Linked DNA regions of Homo sapiens. The protein of the gene in region 3 interacts with the protein of the main gene of each other region in a biochemical or structural test. Each region holds a gene or a part of one and is shown on either strand. Other genes may lie near its edges. The genes, in order: CRK, CAV1, PDGFRB and NHERF1.

Region 1 (7,108 bases), on a different chromosome or scaffold from region 3:
CGTCTTTCCTCAGCCAAGGAACTGAGTTCTTATCTGTTTTGAAAAGGTGGTGCTCGATTATCACGGTAAGTGTTGAGACATAAAATCGTTATGCTAAGATATGAAAAAATATCAAACTAACAAACCTGCCTGCTGCCATTTTCAACTTTGGCAACCAACAAACACAAACAAAAGGCTGAAAAGTGAGTTTCAATGACAGTTTGCCATCATGTGACGACATATAATGCAAAACCCCAGATACTATGCAGGTGGCATCAAAGTAGAATATATCTGGTTCAGGGCCAACACAGGTACATCAATATTCCCATCTCATAATACTATTAAACAGGCCACAATGAGAAAGATCTAGGATAATTTGTGAGCTTATAGACCCCATACTCATTTTTAAAAAATGGTTGTGTTAGACTGGGTGTGGTGGCTCACGCCTGTAATCCCAACACTTTGGGAGTCTGAGGTGGGCAGATCACCTGAGGTCAGGAGTTCGAGACCAGCCTGGTCAACTTGGCGAAACCCCAACCCTACTAAAAATACAAAAACTAGCCAGGCGTAGTGGAGTGTGCCTGTAATCCCAGCTACTAGGGAGGCTGAGACAGGAGAATCCTTTGAACCCGGGGAGGTAGAGATTGCAGTGAGCTGAGATTGCACCATCGCACTCCAGCCTGGGCAACAAAAGCGAAACTCCGCCTCAAACAAACAAAGCTGGGTGCGGTGGCCCACGCCTGTAATCCCAGCATTTTGGGAGGCAAAGGCGAGTGGATCACCTGAGATCAGGAGTTCAAGACCAATCTGGCCAACCTGGTAAAACCCCATCTCTACTAAAAATACAAAAAATTAGCTGGGCGTGGTGGTGATGCACACCAGCAATCCCAGCTACTCAGGAGGCTGAGGCAGAATCACTTGAACCCAAAAGGCAAAGGTTGCAGTGAGCCAAGATCGCGCCACTGCACTCCAGCCTGGGCGACAGAGAGACTCCGTCTCAAAATAAATAAATAAGTAAGAAATAAATAAGAAAAATTTTAAAAAAATTAGTATGTGTTGGCCAGGCGCGGTGGCTCTTGCCTGTAATCCCAGCACTTTGGGAGGCCGAGGCTGGTGGATCACCTGAGGTCAGGAGTTCGAGACCAGCCTGGCCAACCTGGTGAAACTTCGTCTCTACGAAAAATACAACATTAGCTGGTTATGGTGGCGGGTGCCTGTAATCCCAGCTACTTGGGAGACTGAGACAGGAGAATCGCCGTGAGCCGAGATTGCGCCACTGTGCTCCAGCGTGGGTGACAGAGCAAGACTCCGTCTTAGAAAAGAGTAAAATAAAAATTGGTGTGTGTTAACAAAGAGACTGCCTATCCAATTCTCTATTTCTGGCCGGAGCGAGTAAATCTAAATTAGAACTATTCTACAAGGGCAAGTCTACAAAGGACGGCTCAAGAGCTTCCTGATTCATATGAGACTAGTCTGAACCCATTCTCAGCTGGCCAAGAAGAAACTGCTTCGACTTGGCAACAGCGTGAAGGCACGAGGACTCCTGATGCTGTTACACAGGTACACATACAATGAGAACCCCAGAATTACTTTGTACCTCACAAATCTCCAGTACTAAGGGCATCTATCTATTCCCTTAAAACAGTCCCAAATCAACTCCAACGGCATCGGTAAGACAGTCAATCTCAGGGATCCCTCCCTGGCAAGGAAAACCCAGCGCAGGTAATTTATGTTCTTGGCGTAGAGTCTGTTCCCAATATCCAGGAAGACTCAGCCCGCAGCCCCATCTTACTGAGCAAGGTGACGCCCTGAAGTACACACCGACAATGTTTAAGTCCAAGGAAAATGAAGTTCCAGTCACTTACAGGGAAGGGTCTGTTTCCATTGCCTCACTTCTGGTTTATTTTGTGGAATAAAATGTCTTTCCTCCACTAAACACTTTGAAAACCAGAACTCTCTAACGGCGGACAGTCTTCTGGACGCTTAGATCTCTTGCACATAGCCAGGCATCGCCTTAAACTGGGTTGGGCTGGTCACTGAAGGCTTTCTGCTACCACTATTTCTTCTAGCACTTAGTTCACCACCTTCGTCCTCCACGGGGGAAGAGAACGGTACAAAGATTTTGGAAAAATGCCCAAGAAAGGAAAAAATTGACCGGTTTCCTGAGGGTGTCTCCATCCCTCCCGGCCAGTATGTGGTGACTTCCTACCAAAGGCCACCAGGGGAGCACGGCCAAACCCGGCTCTCCAACACGGCAGGAAACGTTTCCAGCCTAAAAGCCACTTGTAGGATTATCGGATTCATTCTGGGCGCCGCTGCCAAGTGATGCCCCCGCAGTGCCAACATCTCCCTCAGCTCTTTGTCCCCACGTTGCCTTGCCCTGCCCTACCCTTGCGCCTGGCCCGGGAGCCAGCCCCACCCTGGGGCCGAAGCAGTTCCCCTTCCCCGCGGCTGCCCTCCCCAGGCACACCCCGGGGCCTCGGTCCGCGGCTCCTCCTCCCCCACACTCCTGCTCCCCGGGTGAGAGCGAGCCCGAGCAGCCGGCGGGCCCCTGCCACGGTCACCCAGCCCTCTGCCCACGACCCCCGAGGGTCCGCTCTCGAGGACCAGCCAGCCAGGCTGGGAGTTCCGCGGCCCTCACCCCGCCCAGGGCCCGCCGTCCCGTCAGTCCCTCACCGGGCGGAGGCTGGGCGGGCGACGGTGGCACCGGCGGGCGCGGGCCGCTGCTGTTGATGATGTAGTGGGAGACGCGCGAGTTCTCTGAGACGCTGAGCACATAGTCCCCGGGGCTGGTGCTCGAGTCCCGCACCAGGAACACCCCGTGCCGCTGGCCCTGCAGCAGCGCCACCGCCTCCTGCCGACTCAACCTCCCCCAGTACCAGCTACTCCGCTCCTCCGAGTCGAAGTTGCCCGCCATGGCTGCCTCCGCGCCTAAACGCTGGGGTGCCGCCGCCGCGCGCGCCCCTCCGGCCCCCGGCGCCCGCCGCCCAGCGGACCGGCTCCGGTTTCAGCTTCACAGCAGCGCCCGAAATGGCGGCGGCAGCCGCGGGCCTCCCCCTCCGGAAATGACGCGCTCCCTGCCCGAGGGAGGCTGCCGGGAAGGGGCCCGCGGCCCGCCATTGGGAGAAGGGCAAGGCGCCCTCGCGCGCGCACTGCGCATGCGGATTCATGGGCGGTGCCGCCCTTCCCGGGCCCGGGCTGCGGGGGATGGGAGGCGGGGTCTAGGGCCCGAGGGGCGGGGCCTCGCAGCCTCCCGCAGAGACGCGCGCCTGCGCTGCGGACAGAGCGGTGCTTCTCGTCTGGGCCCCGGTTCCTGGACGACCTGGGACTTCTAGGCAGCGACTCCCAGACAGAATTGGAGGAGAAAAGATGCGTGTGGCCCTGGGGCCTGAGTTCTCGGCCAGGCTTCCTGCGATATCAGTCTGTTTCTTTTTTCTTTTTCTTTTTGAGACGGAGTCTTGTTCTGTCGCCCACGCTGGAGTGCAATGGCGCGATCTCGGCTCACTGCTCCCGGGTTCAAGCGATTCTCCTGCGTCAGCCTCCCGAGTAGCTGAGACTACAGGCGTGAGCCACCGCGCCCGGCTGTTTTTTGTATTTTTAGTAGAGACGGGGGTTTCACCATGTCGGCCAGGATGGTCTCAATCTCCTGACCTCAGGTGATCCGCCCGCCTCGGCCTCCCAAAGTGCTGGGATTACAGGCGAGAAACATCGCGCCCGGCCACGTCGGTCCGTTTCTGCTCGTTCCTCTAGCTTCTCCACAGACCAGCTGACGTTCTCATTTTCATTGATTCACCTAGGACATTGTTGTTGACACTCCACTTGCACTGCGGGTGCAAAGGTTATCATGGCTGGGCCCTGCACTCCTCGAACTCACAGACCAGTGAGAGGAACCAGGAAACTGGATGACAAAAGGATGACAAATGCTGACAAACGCTATCATGGGAAACGGACATGAACACAGAGCAGAGCCCCCACAGCCAGTCTATGGAGTAATCCAGGAGGGCTTCCCAGAGGAGGCAGCATGTGTTGACTGCTGAATGACAAATGGGGAAGGACATTCTTTCTTTTTTTTTTTTTTTTTTTTTTGAGATGGAGTCTCGCTCTGTCGCCCAGGCTGGAGTGCCTGGGCGTGATCTCGGCTCACTGCAAGCTCCGCCTCCCGGGTTCACGCCATTCTCCTGCCTCAGCCTCCCGAGTTGCTGGGACTGCAGGCACCCGCCACCACGCCCGGCTAACTTTTTGTATTTTTAGTAGAGATGGGGTTTCACCGTGTTAGCCAGGCTGGTCTCGATCTCCTGACCTTGAGATCCGCCCACCTCGGCCTCCCAAAGTGCTGGGATTACAGGCGTGAGCCACCGCACTCGGCGGGGAAGGACATTCAAAGCAAAGGGAGCAGAGTGTACCAAGCCACGTGAAGTACAGAGTTCTCTTCTCTTTTGAGGCTTTGGGGTCACCTGCCCAGATAATTCTAAACACTAAATTGTAGCCAGGGGCATCTCCTACTCTCACTGCCCTCATGATTGCCTCTGGACTGTGTTCCTACGAGTGTCGTGCTCGCTGGTGCTCTTTCGTCTGGCTGCCCCTAATCGCACTGCAAACAACTCCCACTGAGTTTTCTAAAATACAGATCTGGCCGGGCGCCGTGGCTCATGCCTGTAATCCCAACACTTTGGGAGGCTGTGGCTGGCAGATCACCTGAGGTCAGAAGTTCGAGACCGGGCTGACCAATATGGTGAAGCCCGGTCTCTACTAAAAATACAAAAATTAGCCAGGTGTGTTAGCGGGCGCCTGTAATCCCAGCTACTCAGGAGGATGAGGCAGGAGAATCGCTTGAACCCAGGAGGCGGAGGTTGCAGTGAGCCGAAATCATGCCACTGCACTCCAGCCTGGGTGACAGAGGGAGATCCTGTCTCAAAAATATATATATATGTATACAAATCTGAATGTGTTGCTACCTTGTGTAAAACTTTTAACAGTCTTCAGGTGTTCAAACTCCCAGTTTAGCTCAGAGCATAAAATTGGGCCACAGTCTCTCTCTCTCTTTTTTTTTTTTTTAGATGGATTCCTGCTCTGTTGCCCAGGCTGGAGTGCAGTGGCGTGATCTCGGCTCACTGCAATCTCCGCCTCCCGGATTCAAGCGATTATCCCTGCCTCAGCCTCCCGAGTAGCTGGGACTACAGGCACCCGCCACCACGCCCGGCTAATGTTTGTATTTTCAGTAGAGACGGGGTTTCACCATATTGGCCAGGCTCATTTTTTTTTAATTAAAAATTTTTTCTGGCCAGGCATAGTGGCTCATGCTTGTAATCCCAGCACTTTGGGAGGCCAGGAGGTCAGGAGTTCGAGACCAGCCTGGCCAACATGGCAAAACCTCATCTCTACTGAAAATACAAAAAATTAGCCGGATGTGCTGGCAGGTGCCTGAAGTCCCAGCTACTCGGGAGGCTGAGACAGGAGAATCACTTGAACCCGGGAGGCAGAGGTTGCAGTGAGGTGAGATCGCGCCATTGCACTCCAGCCTGGGCGACAGAGCGAGACTCCATCTCAAAAAACATTGTTTTTCTTTATAGCCGAGCGTGGTGGCACATCCAGCTATAGTCCCAGCTACTCAGGAACCTGAGGCGGGTGGATCACTTGAGCCCAGGAGTTCGAGGCTGTATTGAGCTATGATCATGCCACAGCACTTCAGCCCAGGTGACAGAGTGAGACCACCTCTCTAAAATAATAATCATCATTTTTTTAAGAGATGAGGTCAGCTGGTCGCTGTGGCTCACGCCAGTAATCCCAGCATTTTGGGAGGCTGAGGCAGGTGGATCACGAGGTCAGGAGATCGACACCATCCTGGCTAACACGGTGAAACGCGGTCTCTACTAAAAATACAAAAAAAATTAGCTGGGCGTGGTGGCGGGCGCCTGTAGTCCCAGCTACTCAGGAGGCTGAGGCAGGAGAATGGGTGAACCCAGGAGGCGGAGCTTGCAGTGAGCTGAGATCGAGCCACTGCACTCCAGCCTGGGCGATAGAGTGAGACTCCGTCTCAGAAAAAAAAAAAAAGAGATGAGGTCTTCTTATGGTGCCCAGGTTGGACTCTAATTCCTGGGCTCCAGGGGTCCTCCTTCCTCAGCCTCCTCAGTAGCTGGGATTATAGAGGTACCACTGTGCTGGTCCACAGTCTCGTTTAACTGCTCCTATGTGAATGCTGGGTTTCTTTTTCCTGGAATGTTCTTCTACCCACTTTGGAGTCTCAAATTCAAATGTCTTCCCTTTCTTTTTTTCTTTTTCTTTTTTTTTTTTTTTTTTTTTTTGTTTTTGAGTCGGAGTCTCGCTCTGTCGCCCAGGCTGGAGTGCAGTGGCGCGATCCTGGCTCACTGCAAGCTCCGCCTCCCGGGTTCACGCCATTCTCCTGCCTCAGCCTCCCGAGTAGCTGGGACTACAGGCGCCCGCCACCGCGCCTGGATAATTTTTTTTTTTTTTTTTTTAGTAGAGACAGGGTTTCACCGTGTTAGCCAGGATGGTCTTGATCTCCTGACTTTGTGATCTGCCTGCCTTGGCCTCCCAAAGTGCTGGGATGACAGGCGTGAGCCACCGCACCCGGCCCAAATGTCTTCCCTTTCTTAACCATCCCATCACTCCCTCTCTTCATCAACAGCAGTATGTCCAAATTATTCCCATGACAGCTCTTACCCATTTTACTGTAATTTTTCATTTGCAGTTCTGTGTATGTCCTCAAAGGCCAAGCAGCTAGTCTATGAGGTGCTCCAGAAGCATTCAGGACCGCTAACATTGATTCAGAGATGACCATCTGCCAGGCACAGTGCTGACTGCCTTTGTATGGATCATCTCATTTAATCCTCTCAACAACCTTATTTGACAAGTATCCCCATCTTACAAAAGAGAAAACTGAAGCTCAGAGAGTTTAAGTAATGTGTCCAGAGAGACATGGTCGCAGAGTGAGGAGCTAGGGTTCAAATCCTGGAAGGAGAGACAGCTATGGTCACTCTGCTCTACCCTCAATTTTCTGAGATAGGAATTGGGAGGAAGGGTTGGCAGAAATCTACATTTTTAAAAAAGCAGTAAGCTGTGGATTATGGTCTAAGGAATAACACAGTCCTGCTGGACTCACCTTACACAC
Region 2 (5,680 bases), on a different chromosome or scaffold from region 3:
AACATGTTATTTTTGTCATGTTGCTTTCCACCCCTGGAGACCTGCTCTAAATTCACTTGGACGTTTGAGGATAAATCATGCTCACTAGCAGTTTCTGAAAATGCAGTTTCACTGAAAATGCAGGCATCCAGAAATTTAGTAAGCAACTTAAAAGAAAGTGTAAGAATCTCCTATGTATTCATTGAAAAATAATTTGAATTTATGCTTAGAAAAATAGAATTATTATTAAGAAATCTTACACACTCATGTTTTTAAATATCTTCACTAAGGACCAATTGTGTATATGGTGTAACACTGTCCTCAAAGAACATGCCGGGAGAATTGTTGCAGTTACCAGAGGGTTAAATTTGGCAAACTCTTTTTTATTAACGTGCCTTTTAATTATGAAATAGCATACTCACCTTAGATAAAATTTGAAAACCATTTTTGTAAAGTGGTACAATATTGAAGAAAGTTGATAACTTTCAGACCAGATTTAAGCCTCAAATCTACCTCTCTTTTACCTGGACAACTCATTAGCATTTCTGAACCTCACATTTTTTCTATAAAGTGAGAATACTATATTATAGAGTTGTTGTCAGTTAAATGAGAACAGTGTCTGATCACAACTAGTCAACAAATGTTCACAACTCTTCCCCTCCTAGGAAAAGAATCTCAAGGCAGACCTGCTTCGGGTCTGCTCTGTAAAGAGGTAGGAATCCTCTGCTCCCGGTAAATTGCTTCCTAACCTTCTTTGGTAATAGACTATTTTTTAATAAAGGTGATGGATCATTTCCCATTATACACTCAAAATGTGTGTCCATTTCAGGGCAGTCATGGATGACCATTGCCCATCTTTTGACCCCAGATTAAGAACACCTGCTGTAGTATTTTAATTCTGCCTTCAAATCCTCTTACAAAACAAAGACATCTTTAAAAAATAAAATTCTTTAGGTGTCTTGCAGTTGAATGCAGGAAAACCAGAGCCCCTTATTTTTGATAGTTTTGGGAAGAATGCAGTGTCAGAACACAAACCCATAATAGACAAATAATTTGCACAGAAACTTCATAAAAGTATTGACCTGATTTGCCATGTATTTGCCACCTTTTAAAACACACAACTAAATGTTTACCCTGTGTCTAGATCCAAATGGGTGAAGAAAAATGAGTGACAATACATCTACTTAAGCTCACTTACATAATTGTGGCCATGCCGTTTTTTTCACATTACATTATTAGAACATTGGACAATAAGTCAAGAAACAGAATGTTCTACAAAATAAACTTTAAAAATTGGTAAGCATCATGTGCTTTTTCCAGAAGACATTTTATTTTGTTGAATCAAAGGTGGCTCTTTGGCACTGAGTAGCTCCGTGGAGTCATGGCAGTCCTCATTCCCTAATCCTGAGCCTGCCTGAGTCGCTGCTGTCAGTCATCCACTTGTTGGGATTTCAAACTGCATTAAATCCCCTCCTATAGCTGTCACTGCCAAGCAGTTGCACTGGCTCTGTCCTACCTTTCTGTTGGTAATTCTGTTTTTAATCCTGTGCTTCAGTGTAGTTTATATAAATCTTTACAGAGGGATAAAACTTCCTGTAATTAATTGTTTGGGTGAACATGTACCTGGGAGAGCTATTGGGAAAGGGGCCAAATTTGCATTCCAGCTCCTTTCATCCCCACCCTTGAGCTAACCAAGTCCTGTGGATTCTTCCCTTAGCATCTCTGGAACCTTCTTTTCTTTTCTTTTTTTTATGACCACCTTTCCAGTCCTGGCCCTTCAAACTTGAGTGACAGCAACAGTCTCCCTGCCTTGAGTCTCTTTCCTCCTTCTCCCAGTGTGCATACGGTTGTCAAACTCATCTTGATAAACTACTGCATCGATTGTGGCTACACTCCCCTGCTCCCACATCTTCCATAGACCCCACTGTCTGTAAAATAATATTCAGTCTGGCCTCAACCTGTCTTTCCAGCCTCGGTGACACAGGTCTATTCTGCCTGAGACACTTACTATGACACCCTTGCTTGTTCCTGGGGCTTTGACACATTTCCAACGTCCCATTGTTCTTCCTCTCCAAATCAGCCAATTGCCCAAGCCCTGCTCAAATCTCCCACCTCATGAAGCCTTCTTGATGCCTCCCAGCACACCATGATCTAATTTCCTGAAGTAATTATGCTAATTGGGCATTTGAAGAATTGTTAACCGATTATCAACTAACTGCCCCTTAACATTGCATGTGTAGTTGTCTTCAAAGGCAGTTAAATTATGTCATGTTCCTTACATTGTACTGAGTGCCTCGTATCCTTATCCATGTTTGGGGGTTTTACTTTAAGTCAAGAAATTTAATCACATCCATTTGGTTTTCTCTAGAGCTGTAGTTCTCAACCTTTTGTGTGGTAGAGAAACACCTAGAGAACATGTTTAAAAATATCCTGGGTTCCACCCTTGAGAGATAATAAGGTCCAAGGGGAACCCAAATATCTGTGTTTCAGGTCAGCTTATTGGCTCATCCTATTATACCAACTCCTCAGAAGGCCAAGGTGGGTGGATTCCTTGATCTCAGGCGTTCAAGACCAGCCTGGGCAATATCGTGAGACTCCATCTCTTAAAAAAAAAAAAAAAAAGGATTAGCCAAGTGTGGTGGCATGAACCTGTGGTCCCAGCTACTTAAGAGGCTGAGGCAGACAGATTGCTTGAGCCTGGGAAGTCGAAGCTGCAGTGAGCCATGATCATGCCACTGCACTCCAGCCTGGGTGACAGAGCAAGACCCTGTCTCAAAAAAATAAAAATGAAAAAAATCTGTGTTCCCAAGTTCCAAGTGATGCTGATGCTGCTGGTTGCCTTTAAGCATCTCACAAAGAACGAACTCATAAATGCTAATACAGTATATGTCTATGGATACTGAATAGTGGGTTTTTTTTCTCTTTTCTTCTATTCTGTGCTCATGTTGTGTCACTTCTTCCTTTTAGATTGACTTTGAAGATGTGATTGCAGAACCAGAAGGGACACACAGTTTTGACGGCATTTGGAAGGCCAGCTTCACCACCTTCACTGTGACGAAATACTGGTTTTACCGCTTGCTGTCTGCCCTCTTTGGCATCCCGATGGCACTCATCTGGGGCATTTACTTCGCCATTCTCTCTTTCCTGCACATCTGGGCAGTTGTACCATGCATTAAGAGCTTCCTGATTGAGATTCAGTGCATCAGCCGTGTCTATTCCATCTACGTCCACACCGTCTGTGACCCACTCTTTGAAGCTGTTGGGAAAATATTCAGCAATGTCCGCATCAACTTGCAGAAAGAAATATAAATGACATTTCAAGGATAGAAGTATACCTGATTTTTTTTCCTTTTAATTTTCCTGGTGCCAATTTCAAGTTCCAAGTTGCTAATACAGCAACAATTTATGAATTGAATTATCTTGGTTGAAAATAAAAAGATCACTTTCTCAGTTTTCATAAGTATTATGTCTCTTCTGAGCTATTTCATCTATTTTTGGCAGTCTGAATTTTTAAAACCCATTTAAATTTTTTTCCTTACCTTTTTATTTGCATGTGGATCAACCATCGCTTTATTGGCTGAGATATGAACATATTGTTGAAAGGTAATTTGAGAGAAATATGAAGAACTGAGGAGGAAAAAAAAAAAAAAGAAAAGAACCAACAACCTCAACTGCCTACTCCAAAATGTTGGTCATTTTATGTTAAGGGAAGAATTCCAGGGTATGGCCATGGAGTGTACAAGTATGTGGGCAGATTTTCAGCAAACTCTTTTCCCACTGTTTAAGGAGTTAGTGGATTACTGCCATTCACTTCATAATCCAGTAGGATCCAGTGATCCTTACAAGTTAGAAAACATAATCTTCTGCCTTCTCATGATCCAACTAATGCCTTACTCTTCTTGAAATTTTAACCTATGATATTTTCTGTGCCTGAATATTTGTTATGTAGATAACAAGACCTCAGTGCCTTCCTGTTTTTCACATTTTCCTTTTCAAATAGGGTCTAACTCAGCAACTCGCTTTAGGTCAGCAGCCTCCCTGAAGACCAAAATTAGAATATCCATGACCTAGTTTTCCATGCGTGTTTCTGACTCTGAGCTACAGAGTCTGGTGAAGCTCACTTCTGGGCTTCATCTGGCAACATCTTTATCCGTAGTGGGTATGGTTGACACTAGCCCAATGAAATGAATTAAAGTGGACCAATAGGGCTGAGCTCTCTGTGGGCTGGCAGTCCTGGAAGCCAGCTTTCCCTGCCTCTCATCAACTGAATGAGGTCAGCATGTCTATTCAGCTTCGTTTATTTTCAAGAATAATCACGCTTTCCTGAATCCAAACTAATCCATCACCGGGGTGGTTTAGTGGCTCAACATTGTGTTCCCATTTCAGCTGATCAGTGGGCCTCCAAGGAGGGGCTGTAAAATGGAGGCCATTGTGTGAGCCTATCAGAGTTGCTGCAAACCTGACCCCTGCTCAGTAAAGCACTTGCAACCGTCTGTTATGCTGTGACACATGGCCCCTCCCCCTGCCAGGAGCTTTGGACCTAATCCAAGCATCCCTTTGCCCAGAAAGAAGATGGGGGAGGAGGCAGTAATAAAAAGATTGAAGTATTTTGCTGGAATAAGTTCAAATTCTTCTGAACTCAAACTGAGGAATTTCACCTGTAAACCTGAGTCGTACAGAAAGCTGCCTGGTATATCCAAAAGCTTTTTATTCCTCCTGCTCATATTGTGATTCTGCCTTTGGGGACTTTTCTTAAACCTTCAGTTATGATTTTTTTTTCATACACTTATTGGAACTCTGCTTGATTTTTGCCTCTTCCAGTCTTCCTGACACTTTAATTACCAACCTGTTACCTACTTTGACTTTTTGCATTTAAAACAGACACTGGCATGGATATAGTTTTACTTTTAAACTGTGTACATAACTGAAAATGTGCTATACTGCATACTTTTTAAATGTAAAGATATTTTTATCTTTATATGAAGAAAATCACTTAGGAAATGGCTTTGTGATTCAATCTGTAAACTGTGTATTCCAAGACATGTCTGTTCTACATAGATGCTTAGTCCCTCATGCAAATCAATTACTGGTCCAAAAGATTGCTGAAATTTTATATGCTTACTGATATATTTTACAATTTTTTATCATGCATGTCCTGTAAAGGTTACAAGCCTGCACAATAAAAATGTTTAACGGTTAAACAGTCAGCTTTATTATTTTTTCCCAAAACAGGTGTTTATGTGTCAGAGTCTGTGTATGTCTATGTATTTGTATGTAATGAGCATGTGCATAGTGTGTGTATGTGTTTGTATGTGTTTGTGGGGGGTAATGGTCTCCCACTTTAAAATTATTACAAAGTCACTTAGGATATTTCTGCTAAGGTCATCACCATTTATGAGTTGCTTCAGATAAAAGTTATAATTAATAACAAAGTTTTTTTAGCAATTTGCCCAATGTTTTATATGTCATCTAATTTGAGCCCCCAGCAAGCTTGTGTGATGGATATTAATACTCTTAACTTAGCGAAAGACACAATTTGCATTCGGGGCCAATGCCTTCAACTTTGCCATGCCTTAACTGGGTTTTAAAGAGGTATATTGCAGTCTCAATTTATGTTTGTTGCTTGGCTAAGTTTACCTTCAGGACTCCTATATTAGGGTTCTCCAGAGAAACAAAACCAATAGGAGATAGTTGGAGATAG
Region 3 (4,543 bases):
TGCCCCGGGAGCAGAAGTACCAGCAGGTGGATGAGGAGTTTCTGAGGAGTGACCACCCAGCCATCCTTCGGTCCCAGGCCCGCTTGCCTGGGTTCCATGGCCTCCGATCTCCCCTGGACACCAGCTCCGTCCTCTATACTGCCGTGCAGCCCAATGAGGGTGACAACGACTATATCATCCCCCTGCCTGACCCCAAACCCGAGGTTGCTGACGAGGGCCCACTGGAGGGTTCCCCCAGCCTAGCCAGGTAACCACCCTGGCCTGGGGCCAAGGAAATTGTGCACAGTGTGTGTGTGTGTGTGTGTGTGTGTGTGTGTGTGCGCGCGCGCGCGCGCGCTGCCAGGTTTGCCTCAGAGGTAAGTTACGTAGGGTAAGTACTTATCCCTACCAATGAATAGAAGACAGAATGGAACTCATTTGAACTTTGATGCCCTGAGGTGGAAAGGGCAGGCTAGTAAAAACAAAAGTATGGGCTGGGACTTACTTGCAAGGTAGCTATTTCCTTTAAGGGAGCCCCCAGAGGTTATCTATACTCTCTTATCTCTAGGTCCTGTCCTAGCCCCAAAAAGAAGAAGCAAACCTACTTAGCATCCCCAGCACCCCAGCTGTTACTCATGGCCAGCCTGAGGCCTATGTTCTGTTCTTCAGCACCACGCCCTGGGGCCAGAGGGAGCCTGCTTGGTTGTAGGAGTCAGAGGTGCCTAAAGGAATTCAGGACAGAATTCAGACTGGGAAGGAGATTCGTGGTTTTCTTTTGCCTTGGGAAGTGGTGAAGTTACAGCCCAGAGGGGGCTTTATAGGAGGACCCTGCTGTTGTGTGGACTTGATGTCCACGCAGGATCTCCCCTTAACTGGAGAGAAGGGCTCCCCATGAGGCCACGCCCACCTCCAAAGCGAGATCCAGCCCAAGGTGAAGTGGCTGGAGCCCCAGGCTGGGGTACTGTCCCAACTCTGCCACTAGCCGCTGAGACCTGGGAAGGCTTCTCCTCTGCGAGCCTCAGTTTCTCCATATGTGCCAGGAGTGCACACCGGCCTTAGAAGGCTCCGAAGGCCCTCATTGCTCTAACTGTTGAAGAGGCCAACCATCCAAGAGTCCCAGTGGATGGTGCAGAGGAGTGAAGTGCAGCGCTCACACAGCTTGAGGTGTGAATGCTCACCCTGTTTTGTGCCCTCAGACAAGCTGCTTCACTGTCTAAACATTGGTGTCCTCTTCTTTTTTTTTTTATTATTTTTATTCATTTATTTATTTATTTTTGAGATGGAGTTTCGCTCTTGTTGCCCAGGCTGGAGTGCAATGGCGCGATCTCGGCTCACTGCAACCTCCACCTCCCAGGTTCAAGCAATTCTCCTGCCTCAGCCTCCCGAGTAGCTGGAATTACAGGCATGCAGCACCACGCCTGGCTAATTTTGTATTTTTAGTAGAGTTGGGGTTTCTCCATGTTGAGACTGGTCTCAACCTCCTGACCTCAGGTGATCCGCCTGCCTCGGCCTCCCAAAGTGCTGGGATTACAGATGTGAGCCACCACGCCCGGCCAGTGTCTTCTTCTGTAAAATACAAACAGTAAAAGTACTTCTATTAGGCGGTCATTGCAAGGATTAAATGAGATAGCATACACCTTTAGGAGTGCAGAGGAGGGAGATGCTGGTGGGTGAGAAACGAGCTTTGGAGCCAGCTGACCCTGCTCCGAAGTTCCAGCTCCTGCACTTCCCTGCTGTGTGAAGTGGGGCAGTGATATAACCTCTCTGAGCCACACTTTCCTCACGGTGCAGGCCTTGCATAGTTTTCACAAGAGTTAAATGAGCCGGAGTGTGTGAAGCCTACGGTGCAGGGGTGGACACACCGAAGGCTCTTCATGACTGCTGCTGGAATCCTCCTGGGCTCCTTCCTAGCCCCTCACTCACTGCCTCTTTCCTCTAGCTCCACCCTGAATGAAGTCAACACCTCCTCAACCATCTCCTGTGACAGCCCCCTGGAGCCCCAGGACGAACCAGAGCCAGAGCCCCAGCTTGAGCTCCAGGTGGAGCCGGAGCCAGAGCTGGAACAGTTGCCGGATTCGGGGTGCCCTGCGCCTCGGGCGGAAGCAGAGGATAGCTTCCTGTAGGGGGCTGGCCCCTACCCTGCCCTGCCTGAAGCTCCCCCCCTGCCAGCACCCAGCATCTCCTGGCCTGGCCTGACCGGGCTTCCTGTCAGCCAGGCTGCCCTTATCAGCTGTCCCCTTCTGGAAGCTTTCTGCTCCTGACGTGTTGTGCCCCAAACCCTGGGGCTGGCTTAGGAGGCAAGAAAACTGCAGGGGCCGTGACCAGCCCTCTGCCTCCAGGGAGGCCAACTGACTCTGAGCCAGGGTTCCCCCAGGGAACTCAGTTTTCCCATATGTAAAATGGGAAAGTTAGGCTTGATGACCCAGAATCTAGGATTCTCTCCCTGGCTGACAGGTGGGGAGACCGAATCCCTCCCTGGGAAGATTCTTGGAGTTACTGAGGTGGTAAATTAACTTTTTTCTGTTCAGCCAGCTACCCCTCAAGGAATCATAGCTCTCTCCTCGCACTTTTATCCACCCAGGAGCTAGGGAAGAGACCCTAGCCTCCCTGGCTGCTGGCTGAGCTAGGGCCTAGCCTTGAGCAGTGTTGCCTCATCCAGAAGAAAGCCAGTCTCCTCCCTATGATGCCAGTCCCTGCGTTCCCTGGCCCGAGCTGGTCTGGGGCCATTAGGCAGCCTAATTAATGCTGGAGGCTGAGCCAAGTACAGGACACCCCCAGCCTGCAGCCCTTGCCCAGGGCACTTGGAGCACACGCAGCCATAGCAAGTGCCTGTGTCCCTGTCCTTCAGGCCCATCAGTCCTGGGGCTTTTTCTTTATCACCCTCAGTCTTAATCCATCCACCAGAGTCTAGAAGGCCAGACGGGCCCCGCATCTGTGATGAGAATGTAAATGTGCCAGTGTGGAGTGGCCACGTGTGTGTGCCAGTATATGGCCCTGGCTCTGCATTGGACCTGCTATGAGGCTTTGGAGGAATCCCTCACCCTCTCTGGGCCTCAGTTTCCCCTTCAAAAAATGAATAAGTCGGACTTATTAACTCTGAGTGCCTTGCCAGCACTAACATTCTAGAGTATTCCAGGTGGTTGCACATTTGTCCAGATGAAGCAAGGCCATATACCCTAAACTTCCATCCTGGGGGTCAGCTGGGCTCCTGGGAGATTCCAGATCACACATCACACTCTGGGGACTCAGGAACCATGCCCCTTCCCCAGGCCCCCAGCAAGTCTCAAGAACACAGCTGCACAGGCCTTGACTTAGAGTGACAGCCGGTGTCCTGGAAAGCCCCCAGCAGCTGCCCCAGGGACATGGGAAGACCACGGGACCTCTTTCACTACCCACGATGACCTCCGGGGGTATCCTGGGCAAAAGGGACAAAGAGGGCAAATGAGATCACCTCCTGCAGCCCACCACTCCAGCACCTGTGCCGAGGTCTGCGTCGAAGACAGAATGGACAGTGAGGACAGTTATGTCTTGTAAAAGACAAGAAGCTTCAGATGGGTACCCCAAGAAGGATGTGAGAGGTGGGCGCTTTGGAGGTTTGCCCCTCACCCACCAGCTGCCCCATCCCTGAGGCAGCGCTCCATGGGGGTATGGTTTTGTCACTGCCCAGACCTAGCAGTGACATCTCATTGTCCCCAGCCCAGTGGGCATTGGAGGTGCCAGGGGAGTCAGGGTTGTAGCCAAGACGCCCCCGCACGGGGAGGGTTGGGAAGGGGGTGCAGGAAGCTCAACCCCTCTGGGCACCAACCCTGCATTGCAGGTTGGCACCTTACTTCCCTGGGATCCCCAGAGTTGGTCCAAGGAGGGAGAGTGGGTTCTCAATACGGTACCAAAGATATAATCACCTAGGTTTACAAATATTTTTAGGACTCACGTTAACTCACATTTATACAGCAGAAATGCTATTTTGTATGCTGTTGAGTTTTTCTATCTGTGTACTTTTTTTTAAGGGAAAGATTTTAATATTAAACCTGGTGCTTCTCACTCACAGACTTTGTGGTCTCTCTCGGGTTTGGGTTCCTGCCCATAGGGAGTGTGGAGTGGGGCACATGAGGCTCACCCAGACGCAGACCCCCAGACAGGTCCCTTCAGCTCTGAGTCTCATTTCATTCATCTGTAAAGTGGGGATTTTCGCTCTCCCACCCCTCGCTGGAAGCTGGGGGGCCTAGACCTTGGGCTTGGTTTCCCAAGGTGGGAAGCGAGCAGGCTTTTCTGGCTCCACAGAGCCTGGCCTTGAGTCGGGCAGGAGGGTGTGGGGCTGCAGGGCTGCTCCAAGGCTCTGGTGCTGAGGCGTCTCACTGCCTCCACCATGTGCTTTGGCTTTGGCTATCAGCTGGGACACCCTCCCCTCCACTCCGCCCACAGGCCCGGATTGAGGCCGGCGTGCTCTGTGACAGGCAGCTGCTAGAGCCCAGATTCCAGGTCCAGGTGAGTCATGATCAGGCCCCAGGTAGGAGAAGGGCAGACAGAGTGTCCAAAAGCGTGAGAGCACGAAGTGAGGAGAAGG
Region 4 (7,036 bases), on a different chromosome or scaffold from region 3:
CCGAAGCATGGTGGGAGGAGGAGACTCAAAAGGAACATAGCCCCAGTGAGTTCCGGAGGGCAAAGTGGGACCTCCAGTGACGACGACAGCCTGGGAGACCCAAGTTCAAGACAAAATCAGGATCTGCTCAGAGAGGAGACTGGCAGAGAGCCAGAATCAACAGGAGGGAACATGAGGCCATGCAGCCGATGGGCAGCGCAGCTGGGCCGGGGTGACCCAGGGCTGGACAGGCTGGAGACTCTCACTTTCACAAAATGCTGGCTGGCTTTCCAGAAAAGACCCTGCCCGGAGAGCTGCCCCCACACCCTTCTCCCGGGGCCTCCTCCACCCTCAGGCTTCCTCCCTTCATCTGTCCTTTCCCCCAGGGAGCTTCACCGCGCCCTAAGTGGCCGCCCCATCACCTCCACCCACGCAGTCCAGGGAGCGGATGGCGGGCACGGAATTCAATAGGCGCCACCAGCAGTCACCTGGAAAGCTGGGGAAAGTCGATACCCTAATCCCAGTGACCGTCTCTGGGGAACAGGCCCAGGGCCGCTCCCTGCTCCTCCTTCCTCCCTTCAGGGAAGGCTGTGGGAGCCTGGGGGCCAACGCCCCATTGGGCCCAGCCCCTCCCTGGCTGATGCCATGGTGATGGGCCCTACAGAAACAGCCCAGCCCGCTTCCTTCGAGCCAGCTAGCTCAGGACCCCAGAGGAAAGGGGCTGGAGGAGTAGGAAGACCACTTGGGTGTCCAGGGGAACAACAGAGGTAACCCCACCTCTCAAGACTGCCCCTCCCCCAGCCCAGGGCTCTTGTTTATGCAAAGAAGACCAGTGCCCCATGCCCAATACAGGAAAATCAGCCCCAACAAGAGGATGGAAGGGGGCAGGACGGCGGGGGCAGGAAGGAACCCTGGCTGTTCTCAGGGGCTGGGGTGTGTGTGTCAGGAGTATGTTGGGTGTAAGAGCCATATTTGCTCTGGGAGACAGCTCAGTTTGTTCCCCAGATTCTGGAGACAGGGCTGGGCCTGGTGCCAGCTCTTCAAGGAAGCCAGGATGGAGACAGCTGGCCCTGCCTGGAGTGCTGTGTGACGGGCAGCCTGGGGGCACTGGGAAGTGACCAGGGGCTCCAGGCACTCAGCCAGTGTCCACACCTCTAGGCAGAAGGTGTCTTCTCCTTACCCTAGGTGAGGTACAGGGGGCTTGGCTGTCACTGGCCCCCTGCGTAGTGGCCCTGATGTCACCTCATTTTACTCTATGGGACCCCCTTCCACCCTCCACATCCCTCCAGGTCTGTGCGGGCGGCAGGGGAATGTTGGATGTGTCCATTTTAAAAAAAGTCACTCACTGCTCCTAGCCCTTGATCTCTTCCTTCCTATTTCTCAGTGGGAAGAGCTTTCCCTGGAGTCTGGTAGGGTGGGAACCAGGAGGGAGACACAAACTAAAGTGAGGTCTGCTGGTCTGACAGACACCCCCAGGACTCAGAGGTCTGAAACAGGTTCTCCTTCTGGCTAGTAACCTCTTCTCCCTGTGCCAGCCATGGAGACCCACGGGGGCAAGAGGGGGCAGAGTCTGGCTCAGGTCTCTGCAGGGCTGGGCAAGCCTGGGATGGAGCAGGCTGGTACCTGGGCTGCAGCCCGGCTGGACACCATCCAGGGCTGGCCGCCCCATGCCTTCCCTGCTGCATCCTTCCTCATCCCTCACCCTCCTCCCAGAAGTCTCTAGATTTAACCCCCAGGGGTTGTCCCAAGGGGCTATTAAGAACCTTCAAGGAGCTTGTGAAATTGGGGCTCAACACTGAAGTAACAAATAGCAGCTGCTATTTACTGAACACCTACTATGTGTTAGGCACCGAGCTCTTTACATGTGTTTTCTTCTTAAGAGCCAATTATAGTCCTAAAAGGAAAGTATTATTGCCAGCATTTCACAGAAAAGGAAACCCAGCTTCAAAAAGCTGGAGTCAGTTGCTCAAGTACACATGGCTGACGGGCAAAGGCAGGATTTGAGCTCAGATCCAGAGCAGCACTGTCCAGTAGATATATAATGCCAGCCATGTGTGGAATGTAAGATTTTCTAGTCATCACATTTGAAAAAGGAAAAATAGGCCGGGTGCAGTGGCTCACACTTGTAATCCCAGCATTTTGGGAGGCCAAGGCAGGTGGATCACCTGAGGTCGGGAGTTCAAGACCAGCATGGCCAACATGGTGAAACCCTGTCTCAACTAAAAATATGAAAATTAGACATATGTGGTGGTGCACACCTGTGGTCCCAGCTACTCCAGAGGCTGAGGCACGAGAACCGCTTGAACCCAGGAGGCGGAGGTTGCAGTGAGCCGAGATCACGCCACTGCACTCCAGCCTGGGTGATAGAGCAAGGCTCCGTCTCAAAAAAAAAAAAAAAAAAAAAAAGAAAGAAAGAAAGAAAAGAAAAATAGGCCAGGTGTGGTGGCTCATGCCTGTAATCCCAGCATTTTGGGAGGACGAGGCAAGTGGATCACTTGAGCACAGGAGTTTGAGACCAGCCTGGTCAACATGGTGAAACCCTATCTCTACTAAAAAAGAAAAATACAAAAATCAGCTGGGCGTGGTGGTGCACAGCTACTTGGGAGGCTGAGGCAGGAGAATCGCTTGAACCTGGGAGGTGGAGCTTGCAGTGAGCCGAGATCGCACCACTGCACTCCAGCCTGGGCAACAGAGCGAGACTCTGCCTCCAAAAAAAAAAAAAACAGGAAAAATAGTAGAATTGAATATTTTATTTAACATAATGTACCCAAAATATTATCATTTCAATGTGTAATCCATTTTTAACAATTGAGCTATTGTACATCCTTTTATTTGTACAATGGCTTCAAAATCTGGTGTGCATTTTGCACACACAGCACGTCTGCATGTGGACCAGCACATCTCGAGTGCCCGGGAGCCTCGCGAAGCTGGTGGCTGCTGCCCGGACAGCACAGACCTGTGCTGCCTGAGACTGCCCCAAACACACTCCTCTAAATACCCCTGGCCATTGCTGTTCCCCTGACCTTAGCACAGGGAGAGGCTGCAGCCTGTCTCGGAGAATTCAGAGCTCTCAGCACCCAGCAGTGAGTGGGACTTGAACCTGGCCAGCATTCTCTGTGTGTTCCCACACCACCCCGAGGTGACCTGGACCTCAGGGAATCTGTAACTCTTGTCCTTTTCTAGGGCCTAGGGACCTAAACATTGCCTAGGAGTCTGGGGACATGGTGAGTTGTCCTACCATGAGGGGAAGGCTTCGGTCAACAGTGAAGACCACCCTTGAGGGGGGCTCTCTGTGCAGGTTCTGGGGAGTGAGGGCGGGGGTAGATACTTGGTTACCAGATTCCAGATTGACCTATCACATCACGTGAGAAGGGATGGGGACAGGAGCCTGCCACTTATGGGCTGAGGCACTGCAAGGATGCCCTGCTAGGGACAGGAGCACCTGGAAGCCCTGGATCCTTACAGGAAGCCAGTTCAAGCAGCCTGAATTTATACCACTGTGATGGTCCAGCTGTGGCTCAGAATATGATGGGCAGAAACACCTGGCAGAGTCAGGCTTCAAGCACAGCCTACTCATGTGGCCAAATGGCTGTGCAGGCACTAGAGTCAGAGGGTTGGGTTCCAAGACACACCCCTGCGCTGTGTGGGAGGAGTCGCTAGCTCAGAGTCCTGGGACCCGCCATGGCCACCTTAACTGATCAAGCCTCAGCCTCCATAGGCAGAGAATGGGGCCAATATCTGCCTCACTGGTGGTCATGTGGATTAAATGAGACAGGCAAGGTTAGTACTTAGCACAGTGCTAGACACAAATAGTAGCTATCATGTATTGAACACTTACTGTCAACCTACAAAATAGAGAAAACAATAGCTAATTTGTCTGGGGGACAATGAAATGCATATTGGCTGGGTGTGGTGGCTCATGCCTATAATCCCAGCACTTTGGGAGACCGAGGCAGGTGGATTACCTGAGGTCAGGAGTTTGAAACCAGCCTGGCCAATGTGGTGAAACCCCATCTCTACTAAAAATACAAAAATTAGCAGGGTGTTGTGACAGGTGCCACCCAGCCTGGCCACCGTGGTGAAACTCCGTCTCTACTAAAAATACAAAAATTAGCAGGGTGTGGTGGCGGGTGTTTGTAATCCTAGCTACATGGAAGGCTGAGGCAGGACAATTGCTTGAACTTGAGAGACGGAGGTTGCAGTGAGCCGAGATCACACCACTGCACTCCAGCCTGGGCAACAGAGCAAGACTGTCTCAGGAAAAAAAAAAAAAAAAAAAAGAAAGAAAGAAAGAAAGAAAGAAAGAAATGCATGTCAACATCTTTATGTCATAGGTAGAGTGCCTAAAGGCACTGTACAAACCTGTTTCCTTCCAGGTAGGGCCACTCTATCTTAGAGCAACGAAAACAGAGGAACATTTGTTATTGGGGTCTAGAGCTCTGGTTTCTCCCTGTAAAGAGTCCTGCAGCACCAACAAGACCTCGGCTGAGCTTCTTCTTTCTTTTTTTTTTATTTTGGAGATGAGTCTCACTCTGCTGCTCGGGCTGGAGTGCAGTGGCGCGATCTCGGCTCACTGAAACCTCCACCTCCCAGGTTCAAGCCATTCTCCTGCCTCAGACTCCCGAGTAGCTGGGATTACAGGCACCTGCCACCACGCCTCGCTAATTTTTGTATTTTTAGTAGAGATGGGTTTTTACCATGTTGGCCAGGCTGGTCTTGAACTCCTGACCTCAACTCCTGACCTCAACTGATCCACCCGCCTCGGCCTCCCAAAGTGCTGGGATTACAGGCGTGAGCCACCGTGCCTGGCCTGAGTTTCTTATTAATTTCCCACCCCACTTTCCCAGGGACCATTGAGATGGGACATCTGGGAAAGGGGAGAAGGACCCCATCTAGACATATGGAGTTCCTTGAGAAGGAAGCCCCCATTCACCCCCCTCCCCCTGTTTTTTTGGTAGAGACGAGGTCTCACTATGTTGCCCAGGCTGGTCTCAAACTCCTGGGCTTAAGCGATCCTCCCGCCTCAGCCTCCCGAAGTGATGGGATTACAGGCACAAGTCACTGCGCCCGGCCAGGAAGCCCCCATCTATCTCCAAGAGAATCATCTCCAGAATTACTGAGTTAACAGGAGCTTGAAGGTAAGAACCAGGGGCTACACTGTTTTGCCAGCAAAGAAAGAGATCCCAACACACAAACAATCACATACCCTGTCCATTTCAAATCCAAACACCCAGCAGCTCAAGCTCTGTTCTGCCCTACCAGAGCTCCAACTTGGTTGGTGTAAAATGGCCCGCCCGCCCTGGGAAAGAGGTTGATGGCCCTCCAGCTAACTGTGCCCCACCACCCACCTTGCTCCCTGGGGTGCCTGCACTCTGACTCTGGGATCAGGGTCAGGGCTGGCAGGAAACACCCCAAACTAGCACTTTCATTTACAAACCTGTCATGCCACCAAATCTTCCCAATAACCCTGCAGGCAGTGCCTTTCACAGAGGTGGAGGCTGAGGGTTGCAGGGAAAAATGAACTCCCAGGATCCCAGAACCAGCACACGGCAGAGCTGGGATTCAAACACTGATCTGGCTGACCCCAAAGCCTGGACTTTTGGCTTTCTAGTTTTCAAATAGAAGCTGCTAGCAGGCAAGAAAGAAGAGTGGGTAGGTTCTATCTGGAATTCCAATCTCTGGGCGGGGCGGGATGAGCTGAATGAGGACAAAGGTCCCTGACTGTTGTTATATATTCATTCATTAATTCAAAAACTGTTTTTGAGAGCCTCCCTACCATGTGCCAAGGACAGCGCTGGGGATAGAAACACAAATAGGCCACAGTTGATGCCCTTGGGCTTACCACGTAGTGGAGAAAAAGGTCACAAACAGATGATTAAAATATTGTGTGTTTAGAGCGATAAAAGATGTAAGGACAAAGAGGAGGCGGAGGCCGAGGCTGGCAGATCACCTCAGCCCAGGAGTTCAAGACCAGCCTGGGCAACACGGTGAAACTCCATCTCTACAAAGAATTTAAAAATTAGCTGGGAATAGTGGTGCATGCCTGTAGTCCCAGCTACTAGGGAGAATGAGGTGGGAGGATCGATTGAGCCCTGGAGGTCGAGGCTGCAGCGAGGCGAGGTTGCGACACCACTCCAGCCTGGGTGGAATCTGTCTCAAAAAAAACAAAAACAAAAACAAAAACAAAAAAAGTGAAGGAAAGGAAATGCTAACTCTGCCTACTGGATTAAGGACAGGCTCCCTGGGAGGGGACAGAAGTGTCAGGGTGTGAAGGCTTAGAGGCTAGAGGGGAATTCGGACCCTGGGTGTGGTTTTGGGGGTAGGGAGGCAGTGGTGAGAACAGGCTGCCAGATGGAGAAGGGCCATGGAACAGCATATAACTCTTAAAAAAAAAAAAGAAAAAATTTAATAGAGACAGGGTCTTGTCATGTTGCCTAGGCTGGTCTCAAACTCCTGGGCTCAGGCGATCCTCCCACTTTGGCCTCCCAAAGTGCTGGGATTACAGGTGTGAGCCACCACACCTGGCCACAACGTATCATTCTTAACCCACAGTGACCATCGATCAGGCACTGACTGTGTGCCAGGCTTGGCCACAGTGGCATTTGCCCAACTAGGCAGGCTGACCCAGCGCTAGCTGCCCCATGATAGGTGTGCAATGATCACTATGAAATATGTATTCATTCCAATACCAACTGCAAAGGCTGGCTGAGCCTGGACTCAGTGCCAGGCACTGAGCTACGTGCTTTACACACAGCCTCATGCAATTCCGAGGTAGCTGCCATAACCCCCAACTTACACAAGAGGAAATGGAGGCTTACAGAGGTGAGGTAACTTGGCTTCGCACAGCCTGGCTAGTACAGCTGAGCTGGCTCGGCTCTGCCCGGCCGGCACTCTGAACCCAGACTCAAGGGTTTAGGCCTCATCCTGTGACTGGTGGTGAATGGGGGGAGGAGGGCTTTAAGCAGGGGAACAGCAGGGCGGGTCTTGCTGCTCCTCTCTCCCCACGGGGCAGGCGGGGAAGGCCATCCACAAAGCAAAGCCGGTGGGCAGAGCTGGA

Evidence for each region.
Region 1: the proteins of PDGFRB (region 3) and CRK form a complex in vitro, tested with the Homo sapiens proteins (one study listed by BioGRID).
Region 2: the proteins of PDGFRB (region 3) and CAV1 form a complex in vitro, tested with the Homo sapiens proteins (one study listed by BioGRID).
Region 4: the proteins of PDGFRB (region 3) and NHERF1 form a complex in vitro, tested with the Homo sapiens proteins (2 studies listed by BioGRID and IntAct, with this or other methods).

What each region holds. Positions count from the first base shown.
Region 1 is NC_000017.11:1,453,222-1,460,329, forward strand, and holds the start of CRK (adapter molecule crk), read right to left. Parts: upstream 3,012-7,108; 5' UTR 2,897-3,011; coding exon 2,656-2,896; intron 1-2,655. UniProt on the Homo sapiens protein: Involved in cell branching and adhesion mediated by BCAR1-CRK-RAPGEF1 signaling and activation of RAP1.
Region 2 is NC_000007.14:116,556,000-116,561,679, forward strand, and holds the end of CAV1 (caveolin-1), read left to right. Parts: intron 1-2,946; coding exon 2,947-3,288; 3' UTR 3,289-5,180; downstream 5,181-5,680. UniProt on the Homo sapiens protein: May act as a scaffolding protein within caveolar membranes. Forms a stable heterooligomeric complex with CAV2 that targets to lipid rafts and drives caveolae formation. Mediates the recruitment of CAVIN proteins (CAVIN1/2/3/4) to the caveolae.
Region 3 is NC_000005.10:150,113,322-150,117,864, reverse strand, and holds the end of PDGFRB (platelet-derived growth factor receptor beta isoform 1 precursor), read left to right. Parts: intron 1-14; coding exon 15-247; intron 248-1,918; coding exon 1,919-2,102; 3' UTR 2,103-4,026; downstream 4,027-4,543. UniProt on the Homo sapiens protein: Tyrosine-protein kinase that acts as a cell-surface receptor for homodimeric PDGFB and PDGFD and for heterodimers formed by PDGFA and PDGFB, and plays an essential role in the regulation of embryonic development, cell proliferation, survival, differentiation, chemotaxis and migration.
Region 4 is NC_000017.11:74,751,623-74,758,658, reverse strand, and holds part of NHERF1 (Na(+)/H(+) exchange regulatory cofactor NHE-RF1), read right to left. Parts: intron 1-7,036. UniProt on the Homo sapiens protein: Scaffold protein that connects plasma membrane proteins with members of the ezrin/moesin/radixin family and thereby helps to link them to the actin cytoskeleton and to regulate their surface expression. Necessary for recycling of internalized ADRB2.